Regions from separate parts of the Homo sapiens genome. Here region 1 is linked to region 2. Evidence: fine-mapped expression QTL. A gene starts in region 2. The other region holds a variant in brackets. All regions are shown on one strand. Distances are from middle to middle.

Region 1 (4,520 bases), 83 kb before region 2:
TTTTGTATTTTTGTAGAGACAGGGTTTCACCATGTTGGCCAGGCTGATCTCGAACTTGTGAACTTGTGACCTCAAGCGATCTACCTGCCTCGGCCTCCCAAAGTGCTGGGATTACAGGCGTGAGCCACCCCGCCCGGCCTGTCCTTGTTCTTTTGAACAGCTGCAGGGTGCTTTCTTGTCTAGAGAGTGTCATAATCTATTTCACCCTCAGATGGCCACTGGCTTGCTCCCAATTTTTCTCTATTACAAACTGTACTACTTTGAATACTCTGGCTCATGTATCTTTGCTCACTTGATGAGTGTATCTGTGAGATACAATTCTGGAAGTGAATATGTGCATTGTTTGTTTGTTTGTTTGTTTTGAGATAGGGTCTCGCTCTGACGCCCAGGCTGGAGTGCAGTGGTGCCATTATGGCTCACTGCAACCTCTGCATCCCTGGGCTCAAGCGATCCTCCCATCTTAGCTTCCCAAGTAGCTGGGACCACAGGCGTACACCACTACACCTGGCTAATTTTTCTATTTTTTGTAGAGACAGGGTTTCTCCATGTTTCCCAGGTTGGTTTTGAATTCCTAGGTTCAAGCAATCCTCCTGCCTCGGCCTTCCAAAATGCTGGGATTACAGGCATGAGCCACCATTCCCTGCCCTGTGCATTTTAATGTTGTTAAATATTGCCAAATTGCCCTCAGAGAAGGTGATACTGATTTACACTTCCATCAACAATATATGAGAGAGCTCATTTCCCAACACTTGTGTCATGCTGATCATTTAAAAAGCCTCTGTTTGTTTGTTTGTTTGTTTGTTTGTTTGTTTGTGACAGAGTTTCGCTCTTGTTGCCCAGGCTGGAGTGCAATGGCACAATCTCGGCTCACTGCAATCTCCACCTCCTGAGTTCAAGTGATTCCCCTGCCTCAGCCTCCCAAGTAGCTGGGATTACAGGCATGTGCCACCATGCCCATCTAATTTTGTATTTTTAGTAGAGACGGGATTTCTCCATGTTGGTCAGGCTGGTCTCGAACTCCTGACCTCAGGTGATCCGCCCACTTCGGCCTCCCAAAGTGCTGGGATTACAGGCATGAGCCACTGCGCCTGGCTAAAAGCCTCATTTTTAACTTACATTTCTTTATTAATGAGAGTAAGGATTTTTTACACATCCTTAGTGGATGTATGCATTTCTTCTATGAATTATTCATCATGTTCTTGACTATTTTGATTTGTGATTTTCTTTTTTTTTTTTTTTCTTTTGAGGTGGAGTCTCACTCTGTCATCCAGGCTGGAGTGCAGTGGTGCCATCTCAGCTCACTGCAAGCTCCGCCTCCTGGGCTCACACCATTCTCCTGCCTCAGCCTCCCAAGTAGCTGGGACTACAGGAGCCCGCCACCACGCCCGGCTAATTTTTTGTATTTTTAGTAGAGACGGGGTTTCACCGTGTTAGGCAGGATGGTCTCGATCTCCTGACCTTGTGATCCACCCACCTCGGCCTCCCAAAGTGCTGGGATTACAGGCGTGAGCCACCGCACCTGGCCAATTTGTGATTTTCTTTCTTTCTTTCATCCTCTCCTCTCCTCTCCTCTCCTCTCTTCTTTTCTCTCAGGGTTTTGCTCTGTCTTCTAGGCTGGAATGCAGTGGTGCAATCTTGGCTCACTGCAGCCTCAACTTCCTGGGCTCAATCAATCCTCCCTCCTCAGCCTCCCAAGTAGCTGGGACTACAGGCACATGCCACCATGCCTAGCTACCTTTTGTATTTTTTGGTAGAGACAGGTCTCCCTATGTTGCCCAGGCTGCTCTTGAACTCCTAGGCTCAAGCAATCCTCCCACTTCCACCTCCCAAAGTGCTGGGATCACAGGTGTGAGCCACCACGCTCAGCTTTTGTCTTTCACTGATGGTAGGGACTATATTTATTATGGATACTAACCTCCTATATGTGCTGCAAGTACTTTTCTCCCAGCTTGCCCTGCATTTTAAAACTTTGTGGTGTCTTTTGCGCTTGCCCACCAACCTATGTATCCTTGAAGGTCATGCTTCTCATCGATATCGAGCTGGCTTACATGAACACCAACCATGAGGACTTCATAGGCTTTGCCAAGTGAGTGCTCCCCCAGGCAAAAAGTGAGTGCTCCCTGGGCAGAGAAGGTAACGTGTGTGTGTGTGTGTGTGTGTGTGTGTGTGTGTGTGTGTGTGTGTGTGTAGAGCCCAGGTCTGCTAGGTTAACCCTCTGGGTCCTGTGCCCACTAAGCAGTGGGCAGTAGAGCTGGGCCTCTTGAGAAGTTCTGAGACTCCTCCCCTCCCTCCCATTAGTGCTCAGCAGAGGAGCAACCAGATGAACAAGAAGAAGACTTCAGGGAACCAGGTGAGTGGGGCCCAGCACCCCAGCCC[G/A]AGGGATGGAGGGTGCCGGACGGACACCAGACTCTGAGAGCCCCCTCCCCTGAGGGGAAGGGTCCCACGGGGGCCAGGGACCTGTCAGCTGCCAGCCACAAGCCTCCCACTCTGCCTCAGTAACCCTCTCTCCTCTCTCCCCGATGCCTCTCGTGGTTGCTATGGTTACCTCTTTGCAGGATGAGATTCTGGTGAGTACCAGGACTGGGGCTCTCGGCTTGTGTAGTGAGGGGGCGGAGGGTCCATCGGCAGTGGGGATCTGCAACGGGTAGGAGGGCACCCTTTGGCTGAAGCTGCTTGTACACACCAGCCCCTGGCATTTCACACCTGCCCTCAGGCCAGAGGCAGGCCCAGCCGCATCCACCCGTCCATCTGTGTGCACGAGCCAAGCACCTACTTCAGGCAGAGCTAGACCGTGTGGGGCTGGGTGGGTGAGAAGGCTGGGCCTGGCACGGAGTAGGTGCTCCTTAAACATCTGCTGGATGGAGGGATGCACGTGAGCAAGACACATTTTTAAGAAGCTGACAGCCATCGCCTCCGGACTTGAATGAAGAGACGAATGAGAAGTCAAGAGAAGTCAAGAAGTCACTGCTCACCTGGCCTCCTGCTCTCTGTCCTTAGATGTCTGCGGAAACATCCCTCGTCAGAAGCGCTTGCTCAGTTGTACACATGAGCCCGAGGGTCCTCAGCTTTTCTTTCCATAGGTTCCAGAGGCCGTAGTTTCTTTGTAAGACTCTAGGTGTTTATGTGATTATTGGCTTAATGTCTATTTCCTTCCCAGGCCCCATAAGGGGAGGGCTGAGTCTGTCCCGTTTATCATTAAATCCTCAGCTCAAGCCCCTAGCCTGGCACGCAGTAGGTGCTCAACAGAATGAAGGGAGGAATGAATGTAGTATCAGGACAATTCAATTCAGCCAACACTAGCTGGTGCCTACACGGTGCTGGCCCCTGGACAGGACGTGGAGACCTGGGCCTGCTGGTAGGGCCCAGCTAAGGCCCCTGAGAGCTCCATGCAGGGTGGGAGTTGGGAGAGCAGGAGGTCCCTGGTGCAGGGCTGCAGAGAGGGCTTAGGATGAGCAGAGAGGAGTTCAGGGCTGGGTGTGGCCAAGGGGGAGGACAAAGACTACAAGTTAGGGTGGGGAGCAGGTGGCAAGATCTGCTGGTCACATCGTGGGACACAGTGGACTCAATTCCAAAGACAGTGACAAGACCCTGTGGGGATCCTCGCCTGATCAGGAAGGGGTGAGAGAGGCAGCTGGTGTTCTCCCCTCAGCTCAACTGCTGCTGGGCTGTGCAGCTTGGGTTCTCAGCGAGGTTCTCAGGGAACCAGAGAGGCATAAGGAGGGCTCCAGAAGCAAGCCTGGCCCCAGAGGGCTTTGCCGCCAGCCCCAGGCCTCCTTGGGTCTTCTCTGGATGCTCAGAGAAGAAGCTGGGGAGGTCAGCGTCCAGGAGGGAGCAGAAGCAGCTGCCTCATCCTCTCGATCTGACCCATGACCAGTACCTGGCCAGTGACCCTACCCCTGAAGTAGAATCCACAGGCCCTGGACCGTGGCCATGGCTCTGGACAGTCCTGGGGACAGCTGCTTCCTGCCATGAAAAGGGACCTTAGCTTGTTACTCTAGGCACTTTGTGGCTCAGCCCTTGCCCCTGGGGACCTGGAGCCAAAGACCCTTAGAACCGTACTATCATAGCTTTTATTTATTCATACTACAAATATGTATTGATCACTTACTATCTGCCAGGCCCTCTGCAAGGTGCTGGGATGTACTAGTGACCAACAGTTCATGATTTAGCAGGGGAGGCTGCATCGACAGATAATCACACACACGCACGTAGAGAAGTTAATTAAAAATCGAAGCCCTTGTTACAGAAGTCGACTTCAGGGAGTGATCAAAGATCATTATGGGAATCCTGATTTATACTGGGGGACAGGAAGGGGCTGCCTGAGAATGTGAATCCTGAGCTGATACTCAAAGGCTGAGTAGGAATTTGCCAGGCAAAAAGGAAAAAGTGCTTTCTAGGCAGAGGCGGCAGCAGCATGTGTAAAGTCAGAAACACATCTCAGAACAGATGAGACCTTAAGCTTCCAAGACTCGCAGTTGGCTTCCCCAATCGGCCCCATAAACTCTGCTTGCATACTTTTA
Region 2 (4,000 bases):
GTGGCACAATTTCGGCTCACTGCAACCTCCGCCTCCCGGGTTCAAGTGATTCTCCTGCCTCAGCCTCCTGAGCAACTGGGACTACAGGCGCCTGCCACCACTCCCGGCTAATTTTTGTATTTTTAGTAGAGACGGGGTTTCACCATGTTGGCCAGGATGGTCTCGATCTCTTGACCTCATGATCCACCCTCCTCGGCCTCTCAAAATGCTGGGATTACAGGCGTGAGCCACCACGCCTAGCTAGATTACTTATAATGCCTAATATAATGCCTATGCATCACCTTGAGTGGATTCAACACAGTACTAGGTGCACAGCAAATTCAAGTTTTGCTTTTTGGAACTTTGTGTTTTTCTTCCCAAATACTGCCAATCTGAAGCTGGATCATGGGATGTGGAACTCATGGACTCAGAGGCAACTGTACTTAGTGACACGTGAAAATTACCTGAAGTTCAAATATGAATATTCATAAAGTTCTATTGGAATACAGCTAGGCTCATTCCTTTAGATACTGTCTATAGCTGTTTGGCACTACATTGGCAGAGTTGAGCAGTTCCAACGGAAATCACATGGCCTGAAAACTAAAACATTCAGTATCTGGCCCTTTCCAAGGAAATCTGCCAATTCCTGGTCTAATACCTCACTCCTCTGTGGACCTTCAAGGGCCTGGCACAGGAATCTGAGCACTGGGACACTGACTCGGCTCAGGGATTTCCTGGGAAGTGACACACAGGATCCTGCTTAAATCTGCCTTACCCAGTGGATGGTTGATGAAAGAGGGTACGCTGGTGGCTGTGAGGGTCAGCTCCTTCTCTTCGCTGCCTTCCATGGGGCCCAGCAAGAAGCGAACACGCTGTTTAGGAGCGGGAGGCTTCCTGGCATTGAGACCTGAACACACAGAGATAATATATACACACATACATACAAATATATGTACATATAAAATATTTTTTAAGAGACAGGGCCTCGTTCTGTAGCCCAGGCTGAAGTGCAATGGCGCCATCATAGCTCACTGTAACGTCAAACTCTTGGGCTCAAGCGATCCTCCTGCCTCAGCCTCCAGAGTAGCTGGGATTACAGGCGTGCACCACGATGCTGACCAGGAATATCTTGTTCTGTCCAAACACTTGGGGGATTAGACAACAGGGAAGTATGATGTAGAAGACAAAGCAGAAGCCCATGGTGCAGAGGGCAGTATAGCAGTAGTTAAGAAACAGGCGGATTCAAACAGACTCTACAACGTAGTAACCGTGTGACAAGGAACAATACTGAGTCAGTTTCCCCCTCGGAAAACAGAGGAAAGTGAGGAGTAAGAAAGCACAGAGAACAGGCGTTTGGGAAAGCGCTCTGCCCAGGTGAATAGGTCACGTGATTTTGTTTTGGGGTAAGGACCAGAAGCGGAGATGGACTTCCAAGAGAACGAGAGCGGGAACGTGGGTCTGGTTCGAGGCACTCACCCTTCAGAAGTTGTAGCTCCACTGTATCCCGCAGGTGCTTCCATTTTAGCCCCGGGGGCTTATAGACCGCGAAAAGCCCATGCAGCCGCGACAAGCCAGCAGACCCCATACTTGAAGATCACAGCACCCGCTGGACCTGGACGGAAGTACCGCCAGGCCCCGCCCCCAAATGTGGTCCTTTCCACGGGCGCCGCCATGTTCCACAGCCGGAAGAGGTTCGCATTTTATAGTCTTCGGGGAAAACCGGCTGTGGAGAAGGAAATAGGGCCCGGCGCTGAGTGAGCGTGGTTGCGTGTCCTTTGCAGACACTTTCTGGGGCGAGGTGACATGGCGAGAGTCTTGGATCGGTGGACGTAGACGGTAGACAGTTCGCGTGCGTTTCCTTCGCCTACTTGGCCTACATGCCTTCTGCCCGTGAAGCGATGTTTCCCCTCGAAAGGCCGTAGGCTACGCCGTCAGAATCGGTTTTTCAGTGAGTTTTGACCCCTCCGACGCTCCGTCGCCTGACAGAATCGCGGCGTTCTTCGTACCCGCCCATCCTCCGCGGACGCCCGCTGCCATGGCGACTCTGCTGCGCCCTGTCCTCCGTCGGCTCTGCGGGCTCCCGGGCCTACAGCGGCCTGCGGCAGGCAAGTGGCGCCGGGTTCTGGGCGCAGGCGGGAAGGAGCCTGAGGGCGCCCGGCTCCTCTGACCTCGGCCTTTTTCTTGCCCCGCAGAAATGCCCCTCCGGGCTAGGAGCGACGGCGCCGGCCCGCTATACTCGCACCACCTCCCCACCTCCCCGCTGCAGAAAGGGCTGTTGGCCGCCGGCTCCGCGGCGATGGCGCTCTATAACCCCTACCGCCACGGTAAGGCCGCCCGCGCCTCGCCCCCGTGGGGGCGGCTTGGAGCCGTTTCCTGTGGGTAACTGGAACATAGCCTAGGTCGGGGTACCCAAACCTGGTTGCAGCTCGTAACCACTCGGAACGTTTATGAAAATGCAGATTCCTGGATCCCACCTAAACGCACTGAATCTGAATCTGAATCTGCAGTGGAGGGAGAAATGGGCGTGAAACCGAAAGTCTGTCTTTAAACTACTTGGGAGAATCTGTCATGCAGCCATATTGAGAACATCTAGACTAAATAGATGATTCATAAGTACCGATCAGTTTATAATATCCTACTAGAAAGTCAACTCCGAGGTCGAGGACCATGTCTGCCTCGTTCCACTGCATCTGCAGCCTTCTGGATAGTGCCTGGCACATAGTAAATGCTCAATAAATGTTTGCTGGATGTGTGACTAGAACATTCTAGGGTTCTACAGTGTTTTTCTTATGCCTCCTAGATTTTTGAGTTCTGGGAAGTACTGTTATTCCTACTAACAAAAACAGGCTAGGCGCTATTATAGTGGCTCACGCCTATAATCCCTATCGGGGGGCCGAAGCGGGCAGATGGCTTGAGCTGAGGAGTTTGAAACCAGCCTGGGCAACACGGTGAATCCCCATCTCTACAAAAAAAAATACAAGAATTAATTGGGGCTGGTTGCATGCGGCTGTATTCCCAGGCTGAGGTGGAAGGACCATTTGAGCCGGGGAGTTCGAGACTGCAGTAAGTTGTGATTGCGCCATTGCACTCCAGCCTGGGCGACAGAGCGAGACCCTGTCTTAAACAAAAAATACACTATATCTCCATGTCCCCAGTGGTTTTTTGTTTGTTTTGTTTTGAGACACAGTATTGCTCTGTGGCCCACGCTGGAGTGCAGTGGCGCAATCTCAGCTCTATGCAACTTCCACCTCCCAGGTTCAAGCGATTCTCGTGCCTCAGCCTCCTGAGTAGCTGGGATTACAGGCCTGTGCGGCCTGGCTAATTGTTGTATTTTTAGTAGAGACGGGATTTTGCTATGTTGCCCAGGCTGGTCTCAAACTCCTGACTTCAGGTGATCCTCCCACCTCGGCCTCCCAAAGTGTTGGGATTACAGGCATGAGCCACCACGCCCGGCCAAGACCAGCGAATTTTTTAATTTTTTTGTAGAGACGGCGTCTTGCCACGTTGCCCAGGCTGCTCTGGAACTCTTGGCCTCAAGTGATCCTCCTGCCTCAGCCCCCCAGTGTTGAGATTACAGGTGTCAGCCGCTACACTTGGCCACTAAGTGTTATATATATATGATTTTCATGGTTTCTCACATTAACCAGCTAAGAAAGGTGTTGTCTGCACTTCACAAATTAAGACACTGAGGCTGAAAAATGTGAAGCAGGCCAGGCATGGTGGCTCACACCTGTAATCCCAGCAATTTGGGAATCCAAGGTGGGAGGATCACTTGGGGCCAAAGTTCAAGACCAGCCTGGGCAACATAGCAAGACCTCATCTCTACAGAAAATTTAAAAAACTAGCTGCATGCCTGTAGTCCTAGCAGTGAGCTATGATCACACCACTTCACTCCAGCCTGGGCAACAGAGCAAGACCCTGTCTCAAAAAAACAAAACAAAACAGAAATGTGAAGCAATTTGTACTAGGTCACCTAGATAGTGAACACACCTGGACTGTAGCCCAGCATCTCTGATGCCTA

What was found. PIP is the estimated chance that this variant, and not a neighbour inherited with it, causes the effect.
Region 1: its variant is the best candidate, but not a certain one, in a credible set for the expression of COQ4 in whole blood (TOPMed, PIP 0.51).

Annotation. Positions count from the first base shown.
Region 1 is chr9:128,237,430-128,241,949 of GRCh38, forward strand. It overlaps DNM1 (dynamin 1), which reads left to right. Exons shown (of 22, transcript NM_004408.4): 12 at 2,016-2,086; 13 at 2,299-2,350; 14 at 2,556-2,567. Among named protein-coding and RNA genes, the nearest start is that of MIR199B, 5.1 kb to the right of the region's middle. The variant G/A (reference allele first, on the strand shown) is at 2,377.
Region 2 is chr9:128,320,845-128,324,844 of GRCh38, forward strand. It overlaps COQ4 (coenzyme Q4), which reads left to right and starts at 1,995. Exons shown (of 7, transcript NM_016035.5): 1 at 1,995-2,084; 2 at 2,172-2,303. The coding sequence starts at 2,015. It overlaps TRUB2 (TruB pseudouridine synthase family member 2), which reads right to left and starts at 1,603. Exons shown (of 8, transcript NM_015679.3): 1 at 1,456-1,603; 2 at 755-886. The coding sequence starts at 1,564. RefSeq lists an enhancer at 1,303-1,842 and a silencer at 2,223-2,282.